Linked DNA regions of Homo sapiens. The protein of the gene in region 1 purifies or fractionates together with the protein of each later gene. This does not show direct contact. Each region holds a gene or a part of one and is shown in the gene's direction. Other genes may lie near its edges. The genes, in order: SERBP1, TSR1 and NSDHL.

Region 1 (3,600 bases):
CGCTGGGATTACAGGTGTGAGCCACTGTGCCTGGCCAACAGTAAGATTTTTTTAGAGTTCTGTCTTAATGTAGACACTAGCTAACAATGTAATTTTGAAGAACTGAGAACTGTGGTTAATTTTGGTTTTTCTTTTTCAGTCAAGTGCTTCTGCTCCTGATGTGGATGACCCAGAGGCATTCCCAGCTCTGGCTTAACTGGATGCCATAAGACAACCCTGGTTCCTTTGTGAACCCTTCTGTTCAAAGCTTTTGCATGCTTAAGGATTCCAAACGACTAAGAAATTAAAAAAAAAAAGACTGTCATTCATACCATTCACACCTAAAGACTGAATTTTATCTGTTTTAAAAATGAACTTCTCCCGCTACACAGAAGTAACAAATATGGTAGTCAGTTTTGTATTTAGAAATGTATTGGTAGCAGGGATGTTTTCATAATTTTCAGAGATTATGCATTCTTCATGAATACTTTTGTATTGCTGCTTGCAAATATGCATTTCCAAACTTGAAATATAGGTGTGAACAGTGTGTACCAGTTTAAAGCTTTCACTTCATTTGTGTTTTTTAATTAAGGATTTAGAAGTTCCCCCAATTACAAACTGGTTTTAAATATTGGACATACTGGTTTTAATACCTGCTTTGCATATTCACACATGGTCAACTGGGACATGTTAAACTTTGATTTGTCAAATTTTATGCTGTGTGGAATACTAACTATATGTATTTTAACTTAGTTTTAATATTTTCATTTTTGGGGAAAAATCTTTTTTCACTTCTCATGATAGCTGTTATATATATATGCTAAATCTTTATATACAGAAATATCAGTACTTGAACAAATTCAAAGCACATTTGGTTTATTAACCCTTGCTCCTTGCATGGCTCATTAGGTTCAAATTATAACTGATTTACATTTTCAGCTATATTTACTTTTTAAATGCTTGAGTTTCCCATTTTAAAATCTAAACTAGACATCTTAATTGGTGAAAGTTGTTTAAACTACTTATTGTTGGTAGGCACATCGTGTCAAGTGAAGTAGTTTTATAGGTATGGGTTTTTTCTCCCCCTTCACCAGGGTGGGTGGAATAAGTTGATTTGGCCAATGTGTAATATTTAAACTGTTCTGTAAAATAAGTGTCTGGCCATTTGGTATGATTTCTGTGTGTGAAAGGTCCCAAAATCAAAATGGTACATCCATAATCAGCCACCATTTAACCCTTCCTTGTTCTAAAACAAAAACCAAAGGGCGCTGGTTGGTAGGGTGAGGTGGGGGAGTATTTTAATTTTTGGAATTTGGGAAGCAGACAGCTTTACTTTGTAAGGTTGGAACAGCAGCACTATACATGAAATATAAACCAAAAACCTTTACTGTTTCTAAATTTCCTAGATTGCTATTATTTGGTTGTAAGTTGAGTATTCCACAGAAAGTGGTAATTATCTCTTCTCTCTTCCTCCATTAGAAAATTAGGTAAATAATGGATTCCTATAATGGGAGCATCACCACTTATTAAAACACACATAGAATGATGAATTAAAAAAGTTTTCTAGGATTGTCTTTTATTCTGCCACATTTATTGATAAACAGTGAAGGAATTTTTAAAAAATTTTTAAGAATTGTTTGTCACGTCATTTTTAGAAATGTTCTACCTGTATATGGTAATGTCCAGTTTTAAAAATATTGGACATCTTCAATCTTAAACATTTCTATTTAGCTGATTGGTTCTCACATATACTTCTAAAAGAAACTTTTATGTTATAAGAGTTACTTTTTGGATAAGATTTATTAATCTCAGTTACCTACTATTCTGACATTTTAGGAAGGAGGTAATTGTTTTTAATGATGGATAAACTTGTGCTGGTGTTTTGGATCTTATGATGCTGAGCATGTTCTGCACTGGTGCTAATGTCTAATATAATTTTATATTTACACACATACGTGCTACCCAGAGATTAATTTAGTCCATATGAACTATTGACCCATTGTTCATTGAGACAGCAACATACGCACTCCTAAATCAGTGTGTTTAGACTTTTCAAGTATCTAACTCATTTCCAAACATGTACCATGTTTTATAAACCTCTTGATTTCCAGCAACATACTATAGAAAACACCTGCTACTCAAAACACAACTTCTCAGTGTCATCCATTGCTGTCGTGAGAGACAACATAGCAATATCTGGTATGTTGCAAGCTTTCAAGATAGCCTGAACTTAAAAAGTTGGTGCATTAGTTGTATCTGATGGATATAAATTTGCCTCCTAGTTCACTTTGTGTCAAGAGCTAAAACTGTGAACCTAACTTTCTCTTATTGGTGGGTAATAACTGAAAATAAAGATTTATTTTCATGCTCACTTCTTAAAAGTCATAAAAACAATCAAATAGGATCATGTTTATTGTCATGTGTTTCCTGGTTTCTGACCTGTGTGCACACCCCTGTGTGTTTATAATTTTTAAATTGAATTTTATATGGGGTTTTTATTTGCTAAAAACCAGGCTGTTGAATCACATTTGGGAAGGGTACTTATCTTAATGACTAATGACTTAATTGGGAAAGTTGAATTCTTGTAAAATACAAAATCCAAGGACTTCTTGGATTTAATCTGATTGTCACTTCTTAGCAGATCACTTTTTTGATAATGAAAGTTAAGCATACTGAATGCTACTTTTGATTGACAAACTGGCTATAATAGTCTAGGGGAAAAATCCCTAAACAGATAAAGATTCCTAAAGTAATGGTGGCAGCTGATGTTTCAGTGAACTTTTATCTTGATGCGTTTAAATGGAAGTAATGCCAGACCTGAGATTTTTAAGGCATTTTTACAGCTTGTATTGAAATGATTGGAGACATGGTTTCTTTATTAGCTATTTTGAGACCTGTGGAGTTAAGCAAGACTTTTAAAAATTGGCACCATATACATCTAGTTAGTTCCTTTACTCTTATTTTTTTAAATAAAAGTAGTACACATCATTTCCAGGGTTGTAAATATATTTGGGGCTTGTTTTTGGTATGGATTTAAAAGGAGGATATTAAGTATTCATTCTAATTTTGTTATTTTTCTAGTTGCCAGAGATGGTTGCACTGAAATAGAACAGGGAGTTGCATACAAAGCCTAAATGTGTATTGGATTTCGAAAATACTAGGTTGGTGCAATTGGTTTTGTACCAACCTAACATGTCTTTAGGAAAGTACCATCATGTGGAAGGAAACAACAGGTGTTAAAAGGTTCAAAGGAATGAGAAATAGGAAGTTACTAGAACCTAACTGATGTTGACCTTAGAGGTAAGATTATTCAGGTATATTAGTGGACCTCCAGTCCAATGGTATAGCAAATTCCAGGGATCTCAGGTGCATGCAATTTTACTTTCTAAAGTAAACACTTAGAAAATAGATTATAACCCAGACGTTTTGGATTATACTGAGACAAATATGTAAATAAGTTTTAGCAAGTCTGAACATGTACCAGCGAGATCTTCAGGTTAACTAAGAAAAGCCCAGAAACTTCATTATTTACTGTGCTTTGTATGGCATAACTGGTAACAAGGCAGTAAAATGATACATATTTGAACTGGACCATAGTAATTAAATGATTTATCAATATCA
Region 2 (3,830 bases), on another chromosome or scaffold:
CTTGCAAGCAGAGGTTATCCCAGATCCAATGGAGGGAGAGCAAACCTGGCCCACTGAGGAGGAGCTGAGCGAGGCAAAGGGTCAGTATTGGTAAACTTGTCTGTAATTCATCTGACCTGGAATTGTGGATTTTCTGTAGCTGTTCCAAGTGAGGGCCCTATAGGATAGAGTGGGGTGGGGGTATAGTTGAAAGTCTCTCCTCACCCTCAAATGCTGTATGTTTTCAATAAACAAACATTATACACAGTCTTGTTCCATTTCTCAAAATTACTTGTGTTAATGTTTTATCATGAACAGATAAACAACTTTGGATTCATTGCAGGGCTTATTTAGCTGTGTAAGTATTGCTAGTTGTGAGGCAGCTGAATTAAATTTGGAAGTAGTTCTATTTACAGTGTCTGCCAGAATTTCCCATGTTGGCAGCAGTATCTGGTGCCTTGCCTAGGTGAGAATAACCAGAGGGATAGGGAAAAGAAGTCTGTAATTTACTTAATTTGTTTGGGCTTTTACAGATTTCTTGAAGGAAAGTTCTAAGGTGGTAAAGAAGGTCCCCAAAGGAACATCCAGTTACCAAGCTGAATGGATTTTGGATGGTGGCAGCCAAAGTGGTGGGGAAGGAGATGAATATGAATATGATGATATGGAACATGAGGATTTTATGGAGGAGGAATCTCAGGTAAGGAAATGAGGCCTTAGGCCAATTCTGTGTCTAGCTCCAAATGTAAGGCAAAGTGCAGGTGTGATCTTGATGGGTGTGTGTGGTTAGTTTCTTTTTTTTATTTTTTTTATTTTTTTTTTATGAGACGGAGTCTTGCTCTGTTGCTCAGGCTGGAGTGCAGTGGTGCGATCTGGGCTCACTGCAAGCTCTCCCTCCTGGGTTCACGCCATTCTCCTGCCTCAGCCTCCTGAGTAGCTGGGACTACAGGCGCCCACCACCATGCCTGGCTAATTTTTTTGTATTTTTAGTAGAGACGGGGTTTCACTGTGTTAGCCAGGATGGTCTCAATCTCCTGACCTCATGATCCGCCTGCCTTGGCCTCCCAAAGTGCTGGGATTACAGGCGTGAGCCACCGCACCCGGCCGTGTATGGTTAGTTTCTTAGGAATGACTCTGTAGTTGCCAGGAATGAGGCTTTTGTTTTATACTTTAGACTGTATTAGAATTTATGTTGGTTGGGAATAGGGATCTAGTACAATTATTTTACTCTTAGCTTATTGGCCTTTGGGGTAGAGACAGGTGTGGATTTCTTCTGAAAAAACTGTAATCCTATTCTACAGGATGAGAGTAGTGAAGAAGAGGAAGAATATGAAACTATGACTATTGGGGAGTCTGTGCATGATGATCTGTATGATAAGAAAGTAGATGAAGAAGCTGAGGCAAAAATGTTGGAGAAATATAAACAAGAAAGACTGGAAGAGATGTTTCCAGATGAAGTGGACACGCCCCGTGATGTGGCTGCTCGAATTCGGTTAGTCAACAAGTCTATCAACAAATCTAAATTCAGTCAATACGTTTTTAAAAACTTGGCTCAGAGCTGTGTCACTGTGATGCAAAAGAAGAAAAACACATTTTTTCTGCTCCTGAAGAGCTAACATTTAATATGGGAAGGCAGGACATACATACGGGAAATGGTCATATGTAATTAAGTTCTAGACTGTGGTGCAGACTCACGTTACAGGACTTGAATGAAGGGGAAATACTAAGGTTAATTAGCAAATACTTCTTCCCAAAGGAGCCAGTACTCAATTGAAGTATATAATGTTTGGAAATTTTAGGGGGTTTGGGTAGAATAGCAGAAGTAGAAGAGTGAAGAAGTAGATGATTATATCTGTTCTGGAGGTGAGTGACTAAAGCCAGTGAATTAATTTTGGATATTAGGAGGTAAGGCTATGTATTAGGCCATTCTCGCATGGCTATAAAGAAGTACCAGAGACTGCATAATTTATAAAGAAAAGAGATTTAATTGGGTCATGGTCCTGCAGACTGTACAGGAAGCATGGTGTTGGCATCTGCTCAGCTTCTGGGGGTGTCCTCAAGAAACTTACAATCATGGCAGAAGGTGGAGGGGGAGCAAGTCATGTCACACGGCCAGCGCAGTAACGAGAGCAAGGCAGGAGGTGCTACACACTTTAAACAACTAGATCTCATGAGAACTCACTCAACAAGGAGGGTGGTGCTAACCCACTCATGAGAAAACCTCTCCCCTAATGCAGTCACCTCCCACCAGGCTCCACCTCCAACACTGGGGATTGTATTTCAGTATGAGATTGGGGCAGGGAGACACATCTGAACTGTATCAGGCCATTACCAAGCATCTTTTTTGTCAGTGAGAAGCTTGGGTTTGGTTCCGATAGAACTTGTTATAAGCTGTTCGGAGTGTCGTCTTGGTTTAAGCTGTTGGGTTGTTTGGAGAGAGGATGATTGGAGTTCTTTTCAGCTAGCTCCTTAGCCATTTTAGCAGTGACTTGAGTCTATATAGCACCATATAAATCTGACTTAATGTCTTTAAAAATCTTCAATATTCTAGATTTCAGAAATACAGAGGCCTTAAGAGCTTCCGGACATCTCCATGGGATCCTAAGGAAAACCTTCCTCAAGATTATGCTCGAATATTTCAGTTTCAGAACTTTACTAACACTAGGAAAAGCATCTTTAAAGAGGTTGAAGAAAAAGAGGTTGAAGGAGCTGAGGTATCTATCCTCCTTGTTCATCTTGTATGTTGCTTTCATTTGTCAACATGCTCCCTACTTTATTCCTTCTCTTGGCATGAAAATATGCTGCATTTGGGGATTAGGGGAGCCCCTGAGTCATTGATTAGAATGATACTGGGAACAAAGAGGTATCAGCTATGTTAAATGAAAAAGTGTGATCTGGGTAAATGAAGCATCTTGAAGGATGAGGGTTGGCTTTAAAAATTTTATCTGAGAGACTCAACATATTTGGAGAAAGCTTCCTCGCTATTGGGACTTTGAAAGGTAACTCCATGATTGCTTTCTGCTTTCTTGTGGCAGGTTGGCTGGTATGTCACACTTCATGTCTCTGAAGTCCCCGTCTCAGTGGTCGAGTGCTTCAGGCAAGGAACACCCTTGATTGCATTTTCTTTACTACCTCATGAACAGAAGGTAAATTGCTGTCTTGTGGGAAAATGGGGGGTTGTGAAACTTTCCAGCTGCTTCTGACAGTCTAAAATTCTGTTTATGTGTGACTAAAATTTTGCTCATTGGGATGCAAAAAGTCTGCCTTTATGATTAGGAATTGGAGAATAATAGAGAAGTCAATGATGGTTTTATTCATATCGTCTGAACCTGTCTGAAGCATCTCAGTGATGCAATCTCTGTGTGGTTCTGAGACTTCTCCAAGTATGTTTTTCAGACCAGATTTTGAATAAGGGTTGGCAGCCTTAAAAATAAAGGTTTGGCTGGGCGCGGCGGCTCACGCCTGTAATCCCAGCACTTTTTGGGAGGCCAAGGTGGGTGGATCACCTGAGGTCGGGAGTTCGAGACCAGCCTGACCAACATGGAGGAACCCTGTCTCTACCAAAAATACAAAATTAGCCAGGCGTGGTGGCACATGCCTGTAATCCCAGCTACTTGGGAGGCTGAGGCAGAAGAATTGCTTGAACCCAGTAGGCGGAGGTTGTGGTGAGCCAAGATTGCACCATTGCACTCCAGCCTGGGCAACAAGAGCGAAACTCTTATGTCAAAAAAAAAAAAAGTTTATGCCAAAGTGCAGATCTCTTTTCTCTTGGTGGCCAGTAGTTGTGTATGTTGTGGGGTATGTGATAGTTCTTTGATCGGTTTTGGTAAGGGCTCAAGAAGAAGGGGCTTGAA
Region 3 (3,830 bases), on another chromosome or scaffold:
GCTGGAGTGCAGTGGCGTGATTTCAGGTCACTGCAACCTCTGCCTCCCGGATTCAAGCAATTCTCCCTCCTCAGCCTCCTGAGTAGCTGGGACTACAGGCGCCTACCACCACACCTGGCTAATTTTTTGTATTTTTAGTAGAGACGGGATTTCACCATGTTGGCCAGGCTGGTCTCGAACCCCTGACCTCAGGTGATCTACCCACCTTGGCCTCCCAAAATGCTGGGATTACAGGCATGAGCCACCGTGCCTGGCCCCTATTCTTAACACTGTCTCCAAGAGGTTGATCTTATAACTCACCTCAGTAACCCATTATGGAGTCTTGCTGTTTCCAGTCTTGAGTTTTATACTTGATTGTTAGTACATGTTCATTCTTGTCCACTGTGGCTGTGAGAAGTAAAAAGTGGTCATGAAAAGTTTCATGTGATCTCCTGTAATCACACAGCATTATAGGTATGATTATCACACATTTGACTTCCCTGGGGTAAAGGCCAGTTTGATTCCCATCACTACAAGGGTCTCCAGGGAACAGCCATTGGCCTACTCATCCCAAACATTATTGATAGAACATTTCAATATCATAAAATAATCCACGTCACATTGTCCAAGAGTAGCGTACTGATTAGTCACAATTAAAATCGTGAAATGAAATCACACTGGACTAACAGCAAGGTTGTTTTTTGAAGAGATTAGCAACCTTTTGAAACACCTGTAACTAGAGATGCCAAATGAAATAAACAAGGCAGTCTGAAATCTTTCAGGATGCTTTAGTAACATATCTAGTTCTGACTGTCTTTGGGCTTAGCCAGACTTTTAGTAAACTGCAGAAATCCAGGTTGGGAAACAGGCAGCTCAGAGTTATTCTAAATAGCTACAGTTTGCCTGTACAGCTGACTTGGGAGGAGGGGAGAAGAAAGGGATTGCTAGAAAAGGGATTGATGTGAGTTTTGTATTTAATTTGGCTATGACTTGAGGAAATATACATCTCAGTCCAGGTGCAAATCATGTAACCTGGTATGATTACATGTGTTTAGGAATAATCAGAATAAAGCCTAGAAAAGAACAGGTTGGGAAGTTAGTTTTGGGTGGTAGAAGAATGGTGAGGCTGATTTTGTTAGTAGATTGCACATGGACAGATGAAGGTAAAGTACAGTGCCAGCTCCAGCTGGGCCTGGTGGAATCCAGTATGAGTGCTGTTTCAGATGGGACACCCCAACTGGGAGGGAGGTGGATCTAGAGAGGATGTCTGGCCCTGGCATCCCTTGAGTCTCTTGCATAGCTCAATTGTGTTGATGTTTAAGGAATAAGTAGGGAGATTTGTTTGTTTTTTAAATCTAGAACATAATTTCTTTAAGATCTTTCATTTCCACAAACCCAAGTTGGATTTACTGTATATGAGCTAAGGAAATTGGAGGTTGTCATCTTAAGGAGGCCCAGATACAGTTTTAGAAAGACCCTAGGGAGGAGGGATATCACAGGTCCTCCTCACAGACACCCATAGCCAGCTTGTCTGGTGTGCAGCAGCCACAGTTTGGCATCAACATCCTGAAATGAGGGTATTTAAGTGCCTGCATGTGCTACTGTGTCCTTTCATTATGCCCAGTCACCAGAGTTGGAATTACCCAAGGAATCGTGTGTGTTGTGGAGGCTGAGACATAAACACCATGGCTCTCCCCATTTCTTCAACTTCCTTGTAGTTCGGAGGAGGGAAAGCAGAGCCCTGGGCTCATCCATCCTCACTGCAGCCCCACCAGGAGATCCCATCAAGGCGGTCTTAGATTTCTAGGCTGAGGCAAGAAGGGGTTGGGCGATGAGCCCAGAGCCACACAGCCCAGCCCTGTTGTGGCCAGAGAGGGAAAGGGACTGACTTTGTCCTGCAAGTATGGAGACTGCTTTCTTCTTTCTGTTGTTTTCAGTGCAAGCTATCAGCTACCAAATGGCTGCCGTTTTGTTTTGTTTTGTTTTGTCCTTAGAGAAGCGCCCAGGGATCAGCTATCGGGAACAAGAAGGTATCACTGTTTTTTGGGGTATTTTTTAGATTGTCCAGTTTTGGTCATAGGTGGTTTGATTTCCTTTCACTGAATACAAAGCATGGATCTTGTCATCAAACCCAACCAAAGTCAATCTCAGTGTCATTCGCTATCTCTCTTCCCTCCTTACTGATCCCAGGAGAGAAGGTTAGGGTTGCACTAGTGATGGAACACCAGGATGATATAAAGCTTCCAACTTGGCTCAAGAAGAGTTCCAAACAAACAAGTATATCTGCCATTGCAGTGGCTCATGATATGTAAGTCTGGACTCTGTAGCTTCCAGTCCTCACTACCCTGGTCTTCCCCACCGTTCCTCTCTTTCCACAGGCCAAGAGATGCACAGTGATCGGTGGCTCTGGATTCCTGGGGCAGCACATGGTGGAGCAGTTGCTGGCAAGAGGATATGCTGTCAATGTATTTGATATCCAGCAAGGGTTTGATAATCCCCAGGTGCGGTTCTTTCTGGGTGACCTCTGCAGCCGACAGGTAATGGACCATGCAGCCTTGCTGATTTCCCACGAGCCCACGAAGGGAAACCACGATACTTCCCTTGCTCAGAAGCCAGCCAATTTGTTTGAAAAACAATTGTTTCATTGTGAAAATTTTCAAAGTTATAGGAAAGAACACCACATTCTTACTGCTTAGAATGAATAACCATCATCTCTGTCACAGATACTCAGCTGTGTCCTGGTAGCACAAAAGCAGCCATGGTCAGCACTTAAATGAACAAATGGCTGTGGCTGTATGCCAGTGAAACTTGACTTCAAAAGCCGTCCATGGGCTGTATTGTTCCAACTGCAAAACAAGTGTGTGCTGGGCCACAGGGTCTTGATTTTTTAATTGAGATATAATTCATGTACCACAAATTTCACATTTTTAAAGTGTGCAATTCAGTGATTTTCAGTACATCCACAAAGCTGTGCAACTGTCTCCCATGATCTAACTCCAGAATATTTGTATTACCCCAAAATGAAATCTTGTAGCCATCCCCTCTCTTCCCCTCCCAGCCCCTGGCCGCCACTCATCTACTTCCCATCTATGGATTGGCCTCTTCTGGACATTTCATATAAATGGAATCATGTAATATTTGTACCTCTGTGCCTGACTTTTTTCACTTAGCATGATGTTTTCAAGCTTCATCCATGTTGTACAGGTATGAATATCTTGAATTTTATTAGATGGTGCCAAATGGCTCAGCAAAGCTGCTATGTCAATTTTACCTCCATATCCACAATGTGGCACAAGCCCCATTGCTTCACATCTTTGCCAACACTGGGCATAACTAGACTTTTTGGTGTTGCCATTCTGAGAAGTATGAAGTGGTGCTTCACTGATGTTCAGAGTCACATGTCCTCCCTGACCAAGTAACCAGCCACTCTGCCACTGGGTGATCGGCTTTCAGGCTTCCTCCTGTGTGAAATGTTTGTCTGTGTCCTTTGCCCCTTTGTCTTTGGGGTTACCTTTGCTTCCTTGTTGATCTAGTTGGGATGCCAATCCTGTGCCCGTTGTACTTATTATGGATGGCTTCCCTCAGCCTGTCACTGGGCCCTTATTCTTGGCTTTGGTGTCATTCGCTATATGGTTTGTTGATGAAATATTAAGGCCATTGCTTCCGCTGCAAAGTTACGGTTGTTTTCTCTCCCGTGCTGCCCACACCTCCAGGCCTGGAGATGGGGTAGACATCTTTCATGCTCATCATTGCTGCCTCCGAACCGTTCTCCCTCATGCTGCTCTAAGCCTCTCCAGCTTTGAAGAGGATACCCTCAGACTGTACAAACCCCGACACCGTTCCCTCCTTGT

Evidence for each region.
Region 2: the proteins of SERBP1 (region 1) and TSR1 purify together in Homo sapiens (affinity purification with mass spectrometry; 3 studies listed by BioGRID and IntAct, with this or other methods). This does not show direct contact.
Region 3: the proteins of SERBP1 (region 1) and NSDHL purify together in Homo sapiens (affinity purification with mass spectrometry; 2 studies listed by BioGRID and IntAct, with this or other methods). This does not show direct contact.

What each region holds. Positions count from the first base shown.
Region 1 is NC_000001.11:67,409,803-67,413,402, reverse strand, and holds part of SERBP1 (SERPINE1 mRNA-binding protein 1), read left to right. Parts: intron 1-139; coding exon 140-196; 3' UTR 197-3,600. UniProt on the Homo sapiens protein: Ribosome-binding protein that promotes ribosome hibernation, a process during which ribosomes are stabilized in an inactive state and preserved from proteasomal degradation.
Region 2 is NC_000017.11:2,329,807-2,333,636, reverse strand, and holds part of TSR1 (pre-rRNA-processing protein TSR1 homolog), read left to right. Parts: coding exon 1-80; intron 81-512; coding exon 513-676; intron 677-1,277; coding exon 1,278-1,468; intron 1,469-2,527; coding exon 2,528-2,690; intron 2,691-3,011; coding exon 3,012-3,122; intron 3,123-3,266; exon of another isoform or gene 3,267-3,358; intron 3,359-3,830. UniProt on the Homo sapiens protein: Required during maturation of the 40S ribosomal subunit in the nucleolus.
Region 3 is NC_000023.11:152,847,908-152,851,737, forward strand, and holds part of NSDHL (sterol-4-alpha-carboxylate 3-dehydrogenase, decarboxylating), read left to right. Parts: intron 1-2,357; coding exon 2,358-2,516; intron 2,517-3,830. UniProt on the Homo sapiens protein: Catalyzes the NAD(P)(+)-dependent oxidative decarboxylation of the C4 methyl groups of 4-alpha-carboxysterols in post-squalene cholesterol biosynthesis. Also plays a role in the regulation of the endocytic trafficking of EGFR.